Linked DNA regions of Homo sapiens: regions 1, 3, 4 and 5 are each linked to region 2. The links come from fine-mapping of genetic effects on gene expression. A gene starts in region 2. Each other region holds a variant in brackets. All regions are shown on one strand. Distances are from middle to middle. Region 1 overlaps C14orf132 (chromosome 14 open reading frame 132). Region 2 holds the start of C14orf132 (chromosome 14 open reading frame 132). Region 3 overlaps C14orf132 (chromosome 14 open reading frame 132). Region 4 has its middle 55 kb from the start of C14orf132. Region 5 has its middle 73 kb from the start of BDKRB2.

Region 1 (4,119 bases), 24 kb after region 2:
GCATATGTCTTCTCTGAACCTTCCACAGTCTGCCCACTAGGGTGTTGAACCACAGGTCAGGTAAAGAAAATGGGCTTGGAGTGAAGGACTGGATGTGTGGCTATGCTACCAGAGAGAGAGCCTGACTGCACCCTGGCCTGAACCCCTAGTCCTCTTTCACCCTCAACCATGAGATGAGCATCACCAGCTCCAAATGCTCCCCATTAATCAAGAAAGAAAACAAAAAGGACCAATGGATCTTCGTGTTTTCCTTTCGTCAATCTACTTTCTCTCTCCCCTGCCTTTTGCAAAAGCTGACATGGAGATTGCAGCCCTCCACATGTGTCTTTATGGTAATAATTTGAAACACCAGCACTGCCTGTTTCAATTGGAAAGGAGGCATTTCCTGCCTCTTAGGAAAAAGTCCTCCTGCCCAGCTCCCTGCTCACGGCTGCTAAGGTTCACATCCTCGCAATTCCACCACTCTGAGCTGCATCCGTGTCAGAACCGCTAGGGAGTGGTCCAGATCCCTTTGCCAAACATTTCAGCAACTGGAACCCAGGTTTCTCAACAGAGGATTAAAGCGCTGTCTTCACTCCTGGGCTGCCAGGTACATTCTTCCTTGGCCTTCGGAGTGCCCTTACATACTCTCAGGATGAATCCAGTCTTGTTTCTGAGATGATTTTCTTTCCAACAAACAGGTTACTTATGGAGCATAATATAGACTTGATTTTGCCCAAACAAGCCACTGAGCATTTATTGAGTGCCTGCTATGTGCAAAACACTGAGGATCAAAGACACACCACAGACCCTCTCTGCCCAGAGTCACAAAAAGAGTGGATGTCAGTACTTTTATCACAGAAAAAAATTTTTTCATCTGATGCTTTTAAAGAGTTTGGAAGGTGGATGAGGCAGGGATCGTCATATCTGTTTGATAGCTGGGTAAGCAGAGGCCAGGGAGCTGTGAAGCAGCCGTTGACTTGCAGCTGGGGCGGGTCTCAGGCCTCCTTGCTCTTGTCCAAGCTGCCATCCCCTCAGGAACAGAGGGTGAATAGGATGGAGGTTCCGTATAAGAACTGACCTCTTGAAAAGTACTGTCCACCCAAGGAACAGGACTGTGGTATCCTTTTGTTTGTTTGTTTGTTTTTTGAGACAGAGTCTCGCTCTGTCACCCAGGCTGGAGTGTAGTGGTACAATCTTGGCTCACTGTAACGTCTGTCTCCTGGTTTCAAGTGATTCTCCTGCCTCAGCCTCCCCAGTAGTTGAGACTACAGGCAAACGCCACCACGTCGGGCTAATTTTTGTATTTTTAGTAGAGACGGGGTTTCACCATGTTGGCCAGGCTGGTCTCAAACTCCTGACCTCAGGTGATCCACCTGCCTCAGCCTCCCAAAATGCTGGGATTGCAGGGGTGAGCCACCACACCCAGCCATGTGGCATCCTTTTGAGGAACAACAAAAGTTACGTCCCTACATTGGCTTAGGCAAGGATTTGGTGACCAAGAACCCAAAAGCAAATGCAATAAAAACAAAGATAAATAGCTGGGACCTAATTATTCTAAAGAGCTTTTGCACGGCAAAAGGAACAGTCAGCAGAGTAAACAGACAACCCACAGAGTGGGAGAAAATCTTCACTATCTATACATCTGACAAAGGACTAATATCCAGAATCTACAACAAAATCAAACAAATCAGTAATAAAAAAAATAAACAATCCCATCAAAAAGTGAGCTAAGGACATGAATAGACAATTTTCAAAAGAAGATATGCAAATGGCCAACAAACATATGAAAAAATGCTCAACATCACTAATCATCAGGGAAATGCAAATC[G/A]AAACCACAATGCGATACCACCTTATTCCTGCAAGAATGGCCATAATCAAAAAACAGTAGATGTTGGCAGGGATGTGGTGAGCAGGAAACACTTCTACACAGCTGGTGGGAATGTAAACTAGTACAGCCACTATGGAAAACAGTGTGGAGATTCCTTAAAGAAATAAAAGTAGAACTACCATTTGATCCAGCAATCCCAGTACTGTGTATCTACCCAGAGGAAAAGAAGTCATTATGTGAAAAAGATATTTGCACAGGCATGTTTATAGCAGCACAATCCACAACTGCAAAATCGTGGAACTGACCCAAATGCCCATCAATCATCGAGTGGATAAAGAAACTAGGGTGCATATATACACACACACACACACACACACACACACACATATACATATATGTATATATATACACATATATACACATATATATGTGTATATATATGTGTATATGTATGTATATATATATATGATGGACTACTAGGCAGCCATAAAAAGGAATGAATTAATAGCATTTGCAGTGACCTGGATGAGATTGGAGACTCTTATTCTAAGTGAAGTGACTCAGGAATGGAAACCCAAACATCATATGTTCTCACTGGTATGTGGGAGCTAAGCTGTGGGGATGCAAAGGCACAAGAATGATACAATGGACTTTGAGAACTTGGGGGAAGAGTGGAAGAGGGGGCATAAAAGACTACAAATACGGTGCAGTGTCTACTGCTCGGGTGATGAGTGCACCAAAATCTCACAAATCACCACTAAAGAACTTACTCATGCAACCACAAACCACCTGTACCCCAATAACTCATGGAAAAATAAAATTAAAAAAATTAAAAAATAAAAAAGTCACGTCCTCATCTTAATTTGCTCTCCTGGCATTTTGCATTTTCCATGCTGGGATTCCGCTCTGGCCAGCTCTGTTGAACAGGCTTTGCTGGTTGGCAGGGATTGTGCACACACATGGTGCCACCTCCCTTAGCTTCTCTGGCCCTGTTTTCTTCCTAACCCAGTGTGCTGTCTTCCTCCCATACATAGGTAGGGGGTTTTGACGTGACTTCCTGGACATCATGTGTAGCGGTCGGGGGAGTTTTCTCTGGCTTCTGACCCAGCTGGGTGTACTGAAATAACTGTGAGGCTGCAGGGTTCTGAGCCGGATTGTGTTGGCACAGGATGGCCACCTCTGTGCCTTCCTCTTCTGCTCATACAGGTGCCCCTGGGGAGGAGGGTGCAGTGTGTTCCCCTGAGAGCTACATTGGTTGGAGGAGACTATAGCATTTTAGAACGTCCTCCTGGAGATTCCGATGTGCATCTCCAGTGGAGAATCTGGCCTTTTGTTGCTGTTGTTTCATGCCATGATTACTACTGAAGACAATTTTGCCATATAGAGGAGAGGATGTTTAAAAATAAACCAAAAGGATCCACTTAGGGAGGTAAACATCCTGGGCTTGCCGTTGCCCCGGCCGCCGCTTCACTCCAGTATGCGTGTGCTCGCTGATGGAGAATGATGCTCAGTTTCACTTTTATTCCTTTTGTCCTCTCCTCTTAGCCTTCATCACCCCCCACCACTTTCCCCTTCTCTCTCTCTTCCTCCAAAATAGGGATTACATAGTTTTTTTCTTGGTACCTCTGGCTTCTAGCCTGACCCCCTCCACCCCCAGCATGTAGTAGGTGCTCAGTAAAAGGTCTGTTCAGCCAATGAACGAGATAACAATTGAACAAACACATTCCCCACCCATCCTCCTAAGGCCCTGAGACTTTATTCTGCTCAGTGGCAAGGAATTTAATCTGATTAGGAGGCTGCTGACCCACACAGGGGACGCCCATTTGGTTCCAATGACACTGCTGAATCACTTCAAAGATGCTATCGAGTTAATTGGGGTAGAATAAATACTAATTTATGGCAACCTTTGCCAGCTCTTCCCCAAGGGAAAATTTTTAAACTCCCCATCCTCTTGCTTTGCTTGACCGCTGAGATCCAGTGAAAGTGGCCTGAACTTCCCATAGCTGAGCCAACAGAGGCACAGCCTCCTCCCCCTTATCCCCACCTCAGGAAGCCACAGCCACGTGGAGGAGCTCCTCAGGTACAGCCAGGGAGGTGGGGCATCTCAAACAGGCCTTGGCTGTTTCTTCTTAAGGTTCTTAGCCAGCCTCCTCTGAATGCAAGCTGTGGCTCTGGGGCTTGTCCCAGTCCCCTGAATTCTCACCATGGACCATGGGATGCGCGTGGAGGACAAGGTCCCCAGGGCCCTGGACCACACCATCTGAGCCTTTCTGTCCCCGCAGGGCAAGTGCTTCTTCCATTATTGCTAA
Region 2 (4,107 bases):
TAACCTATGCAAGGCTATATTATTTTTCAAATTGCACACACACAACCTATACGCCCTTTTATTGTGAAGTATGCCGTGTACATAATATTTCTTACAGCAGACGGGGAGCCCTGGGCAGTTCTGGGCAGGCTGCTTTGCTATTGGCCACAGGAAGGGTGGGAGGAGGTGGGCGGCTCTTGGCATGGACTGTTTGGGCAGGCCCCGTGTGGACTAGGCTGGGAGGTGGCAGGAATGATGGGTGTGGTGAGTGCAGTACTGGCTAAAAACAGGGAGGGAAGGGAGGGCCAGGGAACTGGAGGGTTTAGAGACCAGAGGAGGAAGGGAGGAGGCAAGCATGACAGGAAAAGTGAAAAGAGAAAAGAAAGAAAAAAGTGGGGGGAAGGGGAGAGAAGGAGAGAAGGAAGAGGAGGAAGAAAAGGAGGGAGAAAGGAAGGGAAGGAAAAGAAAAGAAAGGAAAGTTACAGGAAAGATAACACTGAAAGCCTTCTGTAGGTCAGTGAGGTTCTGGTCCCATTCCCATAGCCACAGTCCCTACTGGGCCCCCAGCTGCCGGGGGACCTTGAACAAACCCCTCCATCTCCCTGTGCCACAGCTTCCTTGCCTGTGACAAAGTCTGGGAGTCCCAGGCTGCCCCTCACAGAGGCTCGTGATGACCATGAGTGTAAAGTACCTGGAAGAGACATCACCCAAAGGGACCAGTCGTACTCACTGAGACTCCTTAGAGTACAGCTGGTTCCCTCCCAGTGAGCCCCCGGAGGGCAAAGCCTCCACGTGTCACCAAGTCTGTGGTGTCCACCACACACACACACACACACACACACACATACAGAGCAATGGGCCCCTGTGGGCGTCTCTTCTGTTCCCCTTACTTGAACTGTGGCACCTGCATGATTTTCGATACTGGTTTGAGCTGAGAGCCATGGAGTACCCGCTGTGCAACCTGAGCACCGTGCGGTCCTCGAAGACACCACTCACAGCCTCGTCTCTATTGGATGATTAGCCATGTTAGGGCTCTCATTTATTGAGGACACCGCGTGCTATATTCCCTATCTCATTTAATTATTCGGTTCTGTATTCTCTTTTCACAGATGAGGAAATCTAGGCTCAAAGACACTATCTTGCTCAAGCTGCACAACAAAGCAGGGCTAGGATTAAACCTCGTTCTGCCCAGATGCCGAGCCGGGAGTACACCGGACTCTGGGAGGAGCGTTGGCGTGGAAAGCCAGGTCACTCCGATCTTGGTCCTCAGGCTCGGGATAACGTGTCAGCCCCAAGAGAGCGCTGCCCACAGCCCCGGGTGGGTTGGGTTCAACTGCACGGGGCGGGGCGCCAACAGCTCAGGACTTGGGTTGCAGGCTGGTTCTTGCACCAACCAGCGGGGCGGCCTCGGGCCTCAGTTTCCCCATCCCGCCCACGAAGGGAGGCGATTGCGAGCGCTTGGGGTTTCTGACGGACCCCGCCCCGGGGGTGGGGCGGGGAGTGGTCACGTGGAGGGGCGCCCCGTCCGCCGAGCCCCGCCCCACCCCGCCCCGCCCGCCCCCGCGCTCGGGGCCCTCCGCCTAGTAGAGATCTGGAGCCAGAAGCCCAGAGACAGCCGAGTGCGCCGTGCGGTCTCCGGACGCTCGCTGCTCAGCCCGATCCCCGCCAACTGTGCAGGCGGCTGACCCGCAGCGGCAGCGGCAGCAGCGAGGACTCGAGCGCTGGCTGCAGCGACACCATGGATCTCTCCTTTATGGCCGCGCAGGTAACGGGGCGTCCCCCCCACGCGCCCCGGGCCGCCAAGTTTGGGGAGGTTCGGGGCCACGGTCTCGCCCTCCACGCTGGGGCTGGGCAGTGGCGCCCGCCCGCGATCCGCGTCCCGGTCCTTTGTCCCGAGCCGGACACCCCCACTTGGTGCACGCGTCGGGGGCGGCGATCGCGGCTCTCCCGGGGTGGGGCGGGCTGCGCGCCCCGCACCCCCGCGGCTCGAGCTGTTCCCGCCCGGGCCCCTCTCGTTGGCAGGAAGGCTGCGAGGAGCCTGGGCAGCCCGAGTCGCCCCCTTCTGCCCATCCCCCACTGCTGTCCCCCTTCTGGGGTCCCGGAGCCCTCCAAGGCCGGGCCAGCTCAGACCCGCGCGAACGTGGATGGGCACACAGTCTCGCCCTTCCCCACTCTGTTTTCCCGAGGCGCCAGTAATCTGTCTCTTGCCGGTGACCTCGGGCGCCCCCTTTGCCGCCGCCTGAGGAAGGCTCTGAGACCCGCTTTGTGACCGTGACCCGCCAAGCGTCGACGCGCCGCGGTCGTTTGTCCTGTTTTGCTTTGTGTAGAGTCTGATGGAGCCACCAGTGCCCAGCGCGGCCAGAACCCCCCCACCCCCCTCCCCGACACAAACAGGCTCCCAGTGGCCGGAAAAACAAATCTCTCACAGCTTGAATTTTCCTCCGGCAGAATGCCCTGGAGTTCTGAGCTTGGGTGATGATTCTATTTCTGTGCCTTAACTCTCTTGAGCCAGAACAAAGACAAATCCCGGATTTCTCCATCAGTCTGTGACCCTAGAGAAGACCCAGAGCTGGCTCCAGGGAAGGGCTGCGTTTGGCCTGGGAGAGTAAGTCCCAATCTACCAAAGCCACATCTTGCACCTTCTCTGGTTGTGTTGGTTGGTTATGGTGGGAGCAGAGAGGTCGGGAGGCCACCCAGGCTCCCTTCTGTCTCCAGGGTGTGTGGCAGGGACCCCATCTGCTGCTGTTTTCTTTTACAGGGAACGAAGTTTGAGGGGACACTTGCTTTTTCCCCAAGCTTCACCTGTAGTGGAAGCCTGTTTAAAAAGTGACAGCAAAATCCAGACTGTGTGTGGACAGCGAGTCTGCAAATGGAGGCTTAAAAGATGCGGAAGCCCCAAGTTAGTTCTGGGGGTCTAGATCCTGGCTCTCCGGCAGCCCCTTAAGTTTTCCATGATGCTAATTGCCCTTCTGAGTATCGCTGGCCCTTTTTTTTTTGCCTGATTTTACATCTCCTGTGCCTAAATCCATACTTATAAAAATTGTCATGTAAACATCATTTTAGATAATGATGGTTTTAGCTACATGAAAACTAAGGAGGCTTTCCAGGATTTATTTCTAGACTGGAGAAGAACTGTGTCTGCCTTCCCCTCTGGATCCCACTGAACCTCCGGAATTTCCATGGTTAACAAGATAAACTGATCCCTGCTAACCCTGGAGCTGGCTGGAGCATCAGTTGCTGCCATGGCAACTTGACGAAATAAATACAGGGCTTTTTAACGTCTTCAGGCAGAATCTGCCCAGAGACCAGGTTCCTATTTTTCCTTTTTTGTTTACAATTCACATTCCACTCGGTCAATGTATTCTCCTTGACACATTTTTGACACTGGTTACATGCGCAGTACTGTGCTAGCTGCAAGGAACAGAAACATGAAGTACCACACATATGAGAACAGACGCTAAGGTTTGTTGAGCACCTACTATGTGCCAGACGCTGGGTGCTTGGCATATTTTATCACAGCAAATCCTTACAAGTCCATGACGGAGGCCCCATTTTACAGGTCAGGACACTAAACGAGATTAAATAATTTGCCCAAGAGCATGCCATTTGCAAGGAGGAGAACTGGATTTCACATCTGGGCCTGAGTATCTGCAAAGGGTTTTCCACCTTATTGCTTCATCCTGAGAAAGATACGATGTAAGGTACAGGACAGATCTATTTCAGAATGATTTCTCTCTTCTCTTCCCTCTGGGAAGTGGGCTTACTATTGTGCCTTTCTAGTAGATTGCTTTCTGCTGTTGATTCATCCCATTATCCCCATAAGGATGGGAACTGTTACTTCCCTACCTGCAATACTTCGCAGTGCTTGGCTGGAGCAAGTGCTCAGACCCTGCTCCTGGTGTGTCCTGTGGCCACCAGGTGTGTGTGACAGTCACTGTCTCTCTGTGCAGTCTTTCCCTCAGCAGGGGGCAGTTTGCAGCGAAATGTTGGTGCATCCATCCACTTGCTCAGCAAATGTCTAGTACCTGCCTTGTGACAAGCTCCGTATCAGGCACTGGGACAGGGATCCTGTGGGACAAACTTGAATAGGACGTAGATTTTCTTTCTGCATGTTTATAAAAGCTTCAA
Region 3 (4,119 bases), 53 kb after region 2:
TGCCCACCAGGGTGATCCCCCTGGGATGGACCATCTCGGGATATGAGGCCTCGGAGGCTGGGGTTGAGATTTGGTCCTGAAGAGCTTATAGCCAGATTGCCACATTCAAGTGTAAGTCCAGGAAAGGGGCAGGCGGCAGTGCACAGGGATTTATCAGTTCCAGAACCTCACAGTGATAAGAGGCTTTAGAGAGCATCTAATCGAGACCTTTAATTTTTCGGGGAGAGCAGCTGAGGCCGTGTGGAAAATTAGTGGAGAGCTGACAAGTGTCTGGGCTCCTGGCCCAGGGGTCCGTGGTCCAGCACGTTGTGCGTTCAGTGGGAAGCAAAGGGCTTGCCCGGGATTACCTGCCCCAGCCCCGAGGTGGGTTGTGCTCCCTGCAGCTGCCATCGGCCCGCTTTGCTTCGTCCTGGCAGATGCCCAGTGATTGTCCCCGAGCAAGTGCCAGGGTTGGGCTGAGCTGCTATGACAGGGAGGCCCAGGGAGTTCTGCTCAGGGAGCCAAAGGGAACAGCCAGATCCTGAATGTTCTATGTTCACCTGCCCCAGCCCCACCCACCCTGGCCCACTCCACAGGCCCCTGACCATGGTCACTCACGGAGAGGGATGGAGGAGAAGGTGGTTGAACTGAGTACTGAGAACCCAGAGGACAGAGCCCACAGCTTCCAAGCAGGAAAAGGGACCTCTCTGAAAAATCTGGATAACCAGAATTATCACAGCACCTTCTCATTCCCAGCGCGTCCTTCTGAGCTCAGACCTTGAGCATTTACTGGGTTTCTTTTTGAGGAAGAGGGAAAGTGACAAAGGACAAAACAATGCAAATCTTCATGACTGAAGACGATCAAAGACTCCCTGGAGCGAGAAAACAGTTACTGCCAGAAGCAGAATGGAAGAGCCAAAAAGTACACAAAATGGACGCCATAAATTCTGAAATAAAAGTGTATGATGTGTTCTGAGTCACTGTAGAAGTCATGCATTTATTATCAAGATAGAAAAGAGCAGAGAATGACGTGGACATTGGTCCTCGGAGAGGCTGCGTAGGTGGTGCGGTCCCCGGGGGATTCTGGATGCTGGTCTTTTGACCGTGGCGGCAGCCTCGCGCCTGCCCGGATGGCTCCATCCAGACATTTGGCAAGGCTGTCATCTGCTCTTGGGTCCTTTTTCAAGCTGATTTCCTGCCTCCCCAAGAGGAGGTTTGAGCCCCATTCTGCCTTGGAAATAAATCCTGACAGATGTGCACAGCATATTTGCAGGGAATTTGCAGGCCTCGATTATTGGGGGAATCAGAGCCCATTCCACACCGAGCCCCATCCACGTGGCTGAGCAACACCCCTGTGTCCCCTGTATCTGTCTCACTGGCTGTCTTTCTCCCAGTTTCTTAAAGAACCACACCATTACTGCGTTTGCCGTTCGAAGCGTTGTCCCAACAATGCAGATGGTTCTGACAAGGGCTCTATATGCTGGCAGAAGGGAGCTTCCAACCTTTTAACTTGAGGAAAATGAATCTCTGAGAGGCTTGAGAGTGTTGCCAGGTGGAGCTTTTCAGGAGACAGGGGTCTTGAGCCCAGGACACCTAACTATCGAGTTTTCACTAGGAGACTTAGTGGTGGCTTTCATGAGGCCAGTCGTTCTCAAGGAAGGGCTGGGGGCCATCAGCAATGTCTGGAGACATTTTTGATTCTCACAGCTTGGTGGGGACTGCTATTGGTATCTCATGGGTGGAGGCCAGGGATGCCACCGAACATCCTACAATGCACAGGGCAGCCCCCCACAAATAAGAATTATCCAGCCCCAAAATGCCAATAGTGCCGAGGTCAGGGGACCCTGTGCTGGCCATCCTATCTCTGATTCTGAAACTATGCATGCTTTCCACTTTTCCCCATTTGTGAGTCATTGAGTAAATTAAAGCTCTTCTGAGCAGCAGCAGTGATCATGGTCACTGCCCTGCGTTCAAATAATGCGAGCTGAGGACAGTGATCTGCAACTCCCAGCATGTCATGTGGTCTCTTAGAAATCCATGTGACTGTTTCCACCATCTTGGGCATTTGTGGGGACCCCCAGACTGGAGGGAGAAAGCCCTACAAAGTGGATGGGAGTGTGGGGCTGAACTTTTCCCTACCCTTAACTTTGTGTCTCTGGGACCTCCAGGGACCTGGCCCCTCACCAATGCATATGAAGAGTATGCTTGGGGAAGAGCTTAGGAATGGGGTGGGCATGGGAGTGCTGGGTAGCAGCCTTTGAGCAAATCTGCATCTTCTCTTATTTCTGACCTTTTTCCA[C/T]GTGCCCAGTCCTATTTCTGCCAGTTGAAGGCATACTAATATTCTTTATACTATTTAATCTTTTGCAGAAACCTTACTATTATAACTTGCTACTCTCCAGATACCAATTCTTCATGCCGAGAGCATCGGAAATGTTTTTGTGTCTTACTGATGTTTTCATGATCAACTTGTAAATGTAAGCAGTTGACTTCATAAAAGGTATTTTAACTATTCTTGGAGTCCTTTGCTACCCAAGCACCTGGTTTCACCATGCGATCACTGACTTCTCTACAGTGAAGACTCTTTCTTAATAAAGGATTTCGCTGTGCTCTTTTGATTAAAAATATCTAACCTTAAAAGACGTAAAAATGTATCTGTGAAATCTCACTTTGTTAGCGTTGCTGCTGTTGTCATTTTCTATTATGATAACTGAAAAGAGAAAAGAAGAAAACATGAACTCCTCTGTGTCTGGTTCTCATCTGTGCTTTATGCAAAGGAGATGATCTACTCAGCTTTAAATGGCTCAGCCCCAGCGTCACCTCCATTCTGATGCTTTTCCTGCCCCACCGAGGCAGGACAGGTCCCCTCCTCCCTATCCCCTCCTGATACCACTCTATCATCACACCTGTAGCAAATCAAATCACGGAAGCTACATTCAGTTTTCCCAACTATCTGAGCCATCTAAGAGCAAACTTATCTTATTCAATGTGTTATCCCCACCACCCAGCACAGTGCCTGGCTCCTAGCAAACATCCGATATTCTGTGAATGAGTGAATGATACCTAAATGACCAGCCCGGTACATTTCAACACTATGAGGAACATGGACCATATCATTTTCCTTATTAGTTCACTGATAGTAACAAACATTCGTATAGCACTTATGAGGTGTTTGGCGCAGCTCTGAGCTCTTTCCACACATGTTAACTCACTTAATCTTCGTTTTACAAATGAGGAGTCTGAGGCATGCAGAGGTTTCTTGCCCAAGGCCATGTAACTGGTGAACCAGGACTGAAAACCTGATTCTGGGTCAGTCCTGGGCTTAGGCCTCAAGAAGCCTTTTTTTTGTTCTGTCTTTGGAACCCTGAGGATGCAAGCAAGGCTAGCCTGCTGGATGAGGAGAGACCAGAGCCTGGCCATTCCTAGCCTGCCAACAGTCCAACAGATAAGAGAGCCAAGGGAGGGGTTAGAACAAGAAGGTGTTCCATAATGTCAAGAGCTGCATGGACTTTGTAGGCAGCAACTAAAGAGCTCACTGAGGACTGCCTGGAGGAGGCAATACTTAACTTGGCATGGAATCTGCAGAAACAGGTGCACAGCAGAGGTTGCATGGGGTTCGGGCTAGAAGACCAGGCTGGATAAAGGTCAAGGCAGCAGTGGATCTGAGGCTGCTGAGGATGAAGGGATACAGCCAGCTGAAAGGGGCCTTGAATGTCAGGGTGGGCACCATGGTGGGCCATGGGCCACTGTTGGCCATAGGGAAGCAGGGCTGGTTCTCAAGTAGAGAGGCCTGCAGTTTCTGGAGCAGGGAGGCAGCAAGAGAACTGGGAAGGGGCTCTTGATTTTGCCCCTCGAACCTGCTCCTCTGGCATCTTCCCTCGCTCGCTGGATGGCACCTCCGCCCTGCACCAGTGTGGCTGATAAGGTGGGGTCTCCCTCCCAATCGTGTGCCTTGCAAAGATGGCAGAGGCTTTCACATGGCCCAAAGGACTGCGTTCTCAAGACTGATAAGCATCATTCTGAAATAGCAAAAATGGCTAGCAGCAAGGTTTTTCAAGAAAAGGAGGCATCCCTGGTCCAATGCTGCTGAATGTGTCTCAAGAAGCTACAGCCAGTCCAGCCCAGGCCACAGCGTGTCCCTCA
Region 4 (4,119 bases), 56 kb before region 2:
ATTACTCTCCTCTTGTTCTCTCTAAAACCCCCTTCAATCAGGCTGACACCTCTGCCCCTCCCCCAAAGTTGCTGTGGTCAAGGTCAGCTGAGCCATCAGCAGCAGTGCTGCCCTGGCGGTTCCCTCACTCCTGGAAACACTCCCTTGCTTTGATGTCCCGAGTCCAATACATGACCCCATCATTCCTCCTGCTTCCCTGGCTGCTCCCCTCCCCTCCCCTTGGTTGGTCCCTCCTCATCACCCGCACCCTGCACCTCTATACCTCTTCCCTGCTTAGTTTTATTCAATTGCTACGTGCAACTTGTTTATTTTCCCTGGCTCCTCCCACCGTGAATCCGTGAAGGCAGGTGCTTTGACTGTTTTGTTAATTACTTTACCCCAGCGTCTAGAAGAGTGCCTTGTGCATGGATGTTTGTCAGTGGACGAATCAATACATGTGATTGATGATGACAATGGTGGCAATGGCAGTGACGACATGACGAAGTGTGCACATACCCTAGATGCTGTTCAAACAACACCCAGTTTGGACGGAACAAAGGTGTGCAGTGAAAAGTATATAAAGAGGATGTGATCAAATCTGACTTCTCATCCCAGTACCCTCTGTTCATTACAAGTAGCTTAACTCACCTGAGCTGGATTCATCCCAGAGATTTAGACAATATCCAGCCCAAGAACCAAGGGATAGTCAGATTCTACTTCTAACTGAAGAAGGTAAGTGCACCCACCCATACTTGGAGAACTCTCTTCCCTGAGATAAGCTGGCTTGACCGGCTGGAGCCGAAATGGCTGCCCTGTTCCCACACTCGCCTGCTGATGGCTTGTGTCTGGGCTTACGTCTCTTTTCCCCGGACCCTGCCCCTAGCTCCTTCTCCTTCTTCGGCTTTCCCCAGCCTCTCAGCTTCCAAAGATACTGCCTAGAGCCCTTTATAGCTGCTTTCTTTCCCTTCTCATTTCTATTCCTGCCTTATTTCACCGGCATGTACACTTTACTTATTTTACAGCGAGCCTACAATTTTGAATCCAGCTTTTAGTCTTAACATCATGGCCTCCACATTGTATGCAGTTGCAGAATGTTCTCATTTTTATGCCCCAGTAAGTGTGCTGATTGGATTATCCATCACCCACTCAGTGTTGGAGCTGGGCTCTGTGCTAGGTCCGTCTCGGTTTCCAAGGAGCTTGCAGCCTGGCTTCAAGATTTCATGCCCACGCTAGCTTAAATAGTCCTTATTATTGGATGTTTGGGGTTTGTTCAGATATCCCCTTTGGTAAATGATTCTGGGATTAATATCGTTGGGCATAAGGGTTTTCCCAGTTTGGGGGTCGTTCATTTCTTTGACCTTTTATGGAGCACCTCTATACTGTCAGCCGGTCTGCATTCAACTCGACAACATCCCTGCATTCCCATCCCCTTCTTTGCTGCATCACAACCAAATTTCCCAGAGGCATCTTTAAATGAGGTTTCTGCTTCATTTCTACAAATGAGAAGCCCTTGCTTGACACATGGCAGGAAAAAGAGAAGAAGCTGTTCCTATTCAAAGGAATCTGAGGATAGGCAGCTGGGATCGTCAGTACCAAATGCCCTTTGCTTCTTGGTGTCCACTGCAGTCTTCCTGCTCCAGGGATGTGGGCAGCTGGGATCACCGACGGTGCCTTTGCTGTAAAACCCAAGCCTTTATACTACCTCGGATGGATGATGTGGTGTTCCTCTCATATCCTCTCTTCAGGGGGCTGATGGGTCACAGTTGTATCCCTCACTGGACATTGCCCTCCCCGTGGGGTTTGGCCTTGCCCAAGCTTACATCCTTTCCAAAAGAACGGCCAGTAGCCAGTGGCTGGCCAGTGCCTAGATACAAAGGCCCAGCTCTCTTTTTCTGGTTTGAGACAACACTGAAGACCATCCCAGCTCCAGAGCTCCCCGTAAGACTGGCTGAGGCTTTGCAGCAACCACACTGCGAGTCAGCATCTCCTTCCACCCAGTCCTCCTTCCTCCTTTCCTTACAGCTGCATCCCCAAGACACTTTTCAGTAAACCTTCTATATACAACTGTCCTTCTCAGAGCTGTTTCCAGGGAACCCCTAGACACTGATCTTTGCTGCCCAAGCTCTTACAATGATCACATAAGCCATACAATTTCAGAGTATGTATTTGCTATGGCAACTGCACTGATTATCTTGATGAAAACAGAAATTGAGGCTGGAAGTAAAGCTCTGTTATGGCAACAAACCTAAAATACGTGATACTTGCTTCATTGTGGGGTGACAGGCATTGAGGAAAATTATAACTTAGGAAGCAAATATGTCAATTCATGTTGTCCTAAAACACTACCATGT[G/A]TGGTGAAACCTGCCTATGGTTATTTCGGAAGCAGACCATGTGCTTACTAAATTGACAACTCTAGGGTTGGACTTGGAAAACATGTCTTCAGTGCTATGTGTTGGTTGCTATTGGCTGCATTCATAAGGTATTATAAGAAGAGATGAGCTTACAGTGAAAAAAAAGTTGGGAGGAGGGGAGCAGAGAGGGAGGAATAGAGAGAATCCAGAAATGTGAAGATTAGACCATGAAAAGCCAAGTGCTTCTGGATCCCAAACAGGAAGACATGGAGCAAAAAAGTCTTTAAGGTATAAAAGCTCAACCAAATTTCCCTGTAAAGATCAATTCATGGCAAAGATCAGAGTAAGGGCAGGATTTTCCTACCTACTACTCCAGATGACTTCAGTGGCGCGTCCATTGAGTTGGGTGGGGCACAGGGCAAGGGAGTGAAGAAATAATGCAGATTGAGAACCAGTTTTAAAATAGTTTTTTGGGTGCAGTTACTGATGCATGGATTTGGCTGGGAGCAAATAAATCACGAGTGTATAGCATACCTCAAAGATACTGTGGGTTTGATTTCAGACCACCGCGATAAAGTGAAAACCAAAATCAAGTGAGATACATGAATATTTTGGTTTCCCAGTGCATATAAAGTTATGTTTACACATGCTGTAAGCTATTAGGTGTGCAATAGCATTATGTCTAAAAATGTACATACCATAATTTTAAAATACTTTATTGCTGAAAACTGCTAACAAATCATCTAAGCCTTCAATGAATTGTAATCTTTTCATTGGTGTAGGGTCTTGCCTTGATGCTGAAAGCTGCTGACTGATCAGGGTGACGGTTGCTGATGGTTGGTGTGGCTGTGACAATTTATTAAAATAGACAAACATGAAGTTTCCCATATCGATTAACTCTTTTCTTCACAAAATATTCTCTGTAGTATTGTATGCTCTTAGATAGCATTTTACCCACAGTAGAACTTCTTTCAAAATTGAAGTCAGTCCTCTCAAACCCTATCACTGCTTTATCAACTCATTGTATGTAATATTCTAAATCCTTTGCTGTCATTTCAATAATATTCAAAGCATCTTCACTGGGAGTTGACTTCATCTCAAGAGATTTTAGCAATTCACTGATATCTTCAAGTTTCCCTTCTAATTCTAGTTCTCTTGCTGTTTCCACTACATCAGTAGTTACTTCCTCTGCAAAGTCTTGAACCCCTGGAAGTCATTCATGAGGGTTGAAATCAATGTCTTTCAAATTCCTGTTCATATTGATATTTTGACTTCCTCCTATGGATAAGGAATGTTCTTAATGACATTTAGAATGGTGAGTGTTTTCCAGAAAGTATTCAATTTACTTTGTCCAGATCCATCAGAGGATTCACTATCTATGGCAGCTATAGCCTTATAAAATGTATTTCTTAAATAATAAGACTTGAAAGTCAAAATTACCTCTTGATCCTTGGGCTGCAGAATGGATGTTGTGCTAGCAAGCATCGAAACAATATTCGTCTCCTTGTACAGCTCCATCAGAGCTCTTGGGTGACTAGGCTCGTTGTCAATGAGCAGTAATATTTTGAAAGGAATCTTTTCTTATGAGCAGTAAGTCTCAACAGGGGACTTAAGATACTCAGTAATTTATTCAGTAATCAATTTCATTAATTTCTCCTCTTCAGCTATGGAAGTCCTAGATGGCCTTTTCTTCTAGTAGAAGGCTGTTTCATCTACACTGAAGCCACCTTCATCAGTGGTCTTCTGGATAACTTGCTGCAACTTCTACATCAGCACTTGCTGCTTTCCC
Region 5 (4,108 bases), 92 kb after region 2:
ACTTAGACCGCCTTCCTGGTGGAGAGGAAGGTTGAGGTAAGTGCCTAACCCAGGTCTCTAACTTATCTACCTCTTTTGTTCCCAGGGTAGTAACCACCTCGCCCTTCCAGTTGCATTTCAGGCACTTCAACCAACCTAAGATGAGCACGATCTATGTGCCATTTGCCAAGACCGGGAAGGCAAAGAAAACATGGGCCCTGACCTCAAGTTGCTCACAGCCACGCTGGAAAGAAATGTTGACCAAGATTGTTATTAGTGTCTAAGATTCAGTTCTCTGGAAAGGAACTGTAATATGGGGAACCAGATTCAGAATGGTTACTGGGTATTGCTCTCGAAGGATTCACCAGTAGGAAGAGAGGAAGATAGAATTGGGAAGAGAGAAGGGACCCACACTGTGGTACAACTGAGACCTCAGACAATCCCATGTGAAACTCTGGAGCTGGGGAGGCCCTTCAGAGTTGCCCCAAATTACGGTAAATGGGCTGGATCTTCATATCCCTAATCAGCCAGTCATCAGCCATGGGCTGCCCCTGGGAGACAGTATAACAGCGGGTGAGACACAGGATGGTTCCCAGTGAAGGACTCAGGGCAGGGCTGGGGGCACCAGGGGGAGGTCGGGCCACAGTCCCTGTGCGCTTACAATGGACAAAGGAAGGCAGCTCTGACATGAATGATGATCGAGACTTTTATTTGCATTAATGAGTGAGATAAAAGTGATATTCCCAGCAGGGGGATGGGCGTATTGCCTGAAGAGGGAACCTTGATTAGGTTTCATAATATTCATATCAGTTAGGTTGACCATATAATTTATCCAAACTAGGACACTTTCAAGAGAGAAAGGGAGTATTATTAATTACATCAGTACAACGGTTTCTGTGCACAGTTCTCATTTTACAGATGAGGAAACTCAGGCACAGAAAGGTTGAGAAACAACATCATTTGCTAACAAGTAGTAGTGAAGAGGCAGGGCCAGGTTTCACACTCTGGCAGTCTCATTCCAGTGACTAATTCTCAAGACACTGTAGAGGTAGAGTTGGCAGACTTGGCGATGGATTGGCTGAGGGGTGTAAACTGGGAGGGCCAGAAGGGATCCTGGCATTCAGGCTTGAGCAACTGGGAAGATAGTGGGACTCTTGACCTGAGAGGGTGTCAAAGTAGGGGGAGGGGAGGGAGGAAAAGGGGATCTCAGACCTTCAGTGAGTGGCAGTGCAATCACTCTGCTGGCTCCTTTTATTTTTTGAGATAGGGTCTTGCTCTGTCACCCAGGCTGCAGTATAGTGGCACAATCATAGCTCACTGCAGCCTCAAACTCCTGGGCTCAAGGATCCTCCCGCCTCAGCCTCCAAAGTAGCTGGACTACAGGCACATGCCGCCAAGCCCAGCGCATACTCCATGCCCGGCTAAATTTTTTATTTTTTGTAGAGACTGGTCTCAGTATGTTGCTCAGGCTGCCCCACTGGCTTCAGTGTAATAAGTGGAAACTGAAAGATAGCTTTCTCAAATTACTCATGTTTATTGTAGAATTATCCAATATAAAACAATATCTTATCTAGAATTTTTCAGTCTTTCTAAACAAAAGCTTCCTAGTGATGCACCCCCCTGCCCCCACACAAACACTTTTTTAGGATGGGGTAGACAGCCACAGTACCTCACCCTCAGGTGAGTATCTCAAGAGCCTATTGGTGGCCCAATAGCTATGGATGCTGTCGCTTCTCACTGCGGACTGCATTTGCTATAAGGGCTCTCTCAGAGCAAGGAGCTTCCAGCCAGAGGCTCACCCTCTCGCACTGGGACAGGAGACACAGCATGCAGCTCCGTGGTGGCAACAAGGGTGCCTGGGCTATGAAAGCTCAGAGTTCTGCTCCAAGTGGGACATTTCCTTCTGGGATTGGTCCCCTAGTGACATTGCTGCTCATGCCCTTATGATCGGTTACATGCAAACTTGCAAACCCTCAGGGTTGATCTTATATACTGTGCGTGTGCACATTGACTCAGCTACCCCCATCCATTTGGCTGTGGGATTTCCTGATATGCAAATTGGGCAACCCTTAGAACAAGAGCTGATAAAATGTCATGGCCAGAATTGAGACTTAGATTCCCAAATGATACACTTAAGCATGTTGTAGAAGGGAAGCTGAGAAGAGAAGCAAATTCGGAGAGAAAGACTAAGGATTCAGCCCTGCATATGACTAGTTTGAGGTACCAGTGAGGCATTCAAGGGAAATGTGTGCCCATGAGAGGTTGACTTTGTAGTCTGAGTGTTTAGAGAGATCTTGGTTTTCTATAGAAATCAGGGGATCATAAACTGGTTCATGGTCATTATCTGCTGCATGGAAAGTATTGGCATGGAGAGTGCCTAGAACAGAACTATGAGACCCTATAGCATTTGAGGGCTGGATACAAGAGGAGGAGCTGGCAGAGGAGTCTGAGGAAGAACAG[A/G]TCAGGGCAGAGGGGACCCAGGAGAGGTGACTGTCAGAGGATGCCAGGGAGTGGGTTTTAAGGAGGAACAGTCAGTAGTATAAATGCTGTGGAGAGGTGTACAAGATAAAGTCTCCAAAGCACAGGCCACATTTAGAGAGATGCAGGTCACCATGGCAAGGACCAACTTCAGTGAGGGGGCTGGGGGCAAAAGCCAGAAGATTGGTTAAAGAATGAGCAAGAATGGGTAATAGGAGTTACAGAGAGCAGGTAATTTGTTCAAGAAGTTGCCTGTCAATGGCTGGTGTGGGGTGACAAAAAAAAAAAAAAAGCCCTAATGGGTGGGGCATGATTTCAAGGGAGACATTTGCAGAGATAAGAGAGCTAGGCATGTTTTTTGCTGATGGGAACTAATAAGGAGATAGAATGGGGCAGGCTGAAGACACAGGAGAGGGAGGAAGCATTGAAGAGGCTGAGATCCAGAGAAGGAAGACATTAACGGCAAGAATGAACCATTCTCTGCTCCCTCCATGAACTGTGCCTTTGTGAATGTCTTAAATTCCGCAATCTGAAGAATAGGTCAACTAAAGGGACAACGACAAAACCACTCAGCCTGCATCATCAGTGAGTGCCAACTATGAAACAGACATTCTCAGCGAGAAAACTGAGCACAAAGAAGAGCAGACAGATAGATCGATCCATCCATCTATCTGTCCATCTATCTATCCATCCATCCACCTCCTCAGCCACCCATCAATTCATCCATCCATTGATCCATCCATCTATTCATCTATCCATCTATGCACCCACCCATCCATCTACCCCCTCACCACCAACCCACCCATCCATCCACCCGTCCATCTATTTGCATATGAATGAAAATATGGTGAAACTAAGCAGCAGGAAGGACACAGACCTGGAGGGGTTAAAGACTGGAAGGATGAGTGAGGCTAACTAAGGTGTGAGTGCTGCTGGCTTCACTCTCTGTGGTCATTAACTTGCTAATGGAGTCCCTACCTCCATTAGCTGGGCGATCAGCAAGCCAGATCAATGGGACCATGGATCTACTGCTCTAGAGGTTTCCTTAGAGCCAAAGTCCAGCTGTCTAGACTTGTGATCTGCCCTTGGGTCAAATCTGTGAAGAATAGGCTATGTGGGGTGTCCGGAATTCAGTCAAGAGCTCTGATTTCTTGTTGAGTCATTGCTGTGTGATCTTAAGGATACCTGTGCACCTTCCTAGGTTTCTGTTTCCTCATTTGTAAAATGGGAGAAATTTGGGCAGGCAATAGATGATCCCCAAAGCCCTTTTCAGCTCTGAGGTTAAAAACTATTCTAACCCACTTAAAAACTGATCAAAGGACTTAAATAGACATTTCTCCAAAGAAGATATACAAAAGGCCAACAAGCATATGAAAAGATGTTCAACATGTTAGTCATTAGAGAAATGCAAATCAACACTTCAATGAAATACTACTTCACACCCACTAGGATGGGTATCAAAGAAATGAAAAATAGCAAGTGCTGACAAGGATGTGAAGAAACGGGAACCCTTGTATATTGATGGTAGAAATGTAAAATGGTACAGCCAGTGTGGAAAGCAGTTGAGTGACTCCCCAGAAAGTTAAACATAGAATTACCATATGGCCCAGCAATTTTACTTCTAGATATATACCCAAAAGAACTGAAATAA

The links. PIP is the estimated chance that this variant, and not a neighbour inherited with it, causes the effect. A credible set is the group of variants that fine-mapping cannot tell apart.
Region 1: its variant is the best candidate, but not a certain one, in a credible set for the expression of C14orf132 in whole blood (INTERVAL, PIP 0.83).
Region 3: its variant is the best candidate, but not a certain one, in a credible set for the expression of C14orf132 in tibial artery (GTEx, PIP 0.87).
Region 4: its variant is the best candidate, but not a certain one, in a credible set for the expression of C14orf132 in whole blood (TOPMed, PIP 0.64).
Region 5: its variant is the best candidate, but not a certain one, in a credible set for the expression of C14orf132 in whole blood (INTERVAL, PIP 0.67).

What each region holds. Positions count from the first base shown.
Region 1 is chr14:96,062,199-96,066,317 of GRCh38, forward strand. All of the region lies in intron 1 of C14orf132 (chromosome 14 open reading frame 132), which reads left to right. Among named protein-coding and RNA genes, the nearest start is that of C14orf132, 25 kb to the left of the region's middle. RefSeq lists a silencer at 510-687. The variant G/A (reference allele first, on the strand shown) is at 1,811.
Region 2 is chr14:96,037,784-96,041,890 of GRCh38, forward strand. It overlaps C14orf132 (chromosome 14 open reading frame 132), which reads left to right and starts at 1,579. Exons shown (of 2, transcript NM_001252507.3): 1 at 1,579-1,744. The coding sequence starts at 1,718. RefSeq lists silencers at 1,429-1,618, 1,639-1,688.
Region 3 is chr14:96,091,176-96,095,294 of GRCh38, forward strand. It overlaps C14orf132 (chromosome 14 open reading frame 132), which reads left to right. Exons shown (of 2, transcript NM_001252507.3): 2 at 1-2,796. Among named protein-coding and RNA genes, the nearest start is that of C14orf132, 54 kb to the left of the region's middle. RefSeq lists enhancers at 998-1,167, 3,334-3,834, 3,835-4,119. The variant C/T (reference allele first, on the strand shown) is at 2,279.
Region 4 is chr14:95,982,060-95,986,178 of GRCh38, forward strand. No RefSeq gene overlaps it. Among named protein-coding and RNA genes, the nearest start is that of C14orf132, 55 kb to the right of the region's middle. The variant G/A (reference allele first, on the strand shown) is at 2,331.
Region 5 is chr14:96,130,046-96,134,153 of GRCh38, forward strand. No RefSeq gene overlaps it. Among named protein-coding and RNA genes, the nearest start is that of BDKRB2, 73 kb to the right of the region's middle. The variant A/G (reference allele first, on the strand shown) is at 2,440.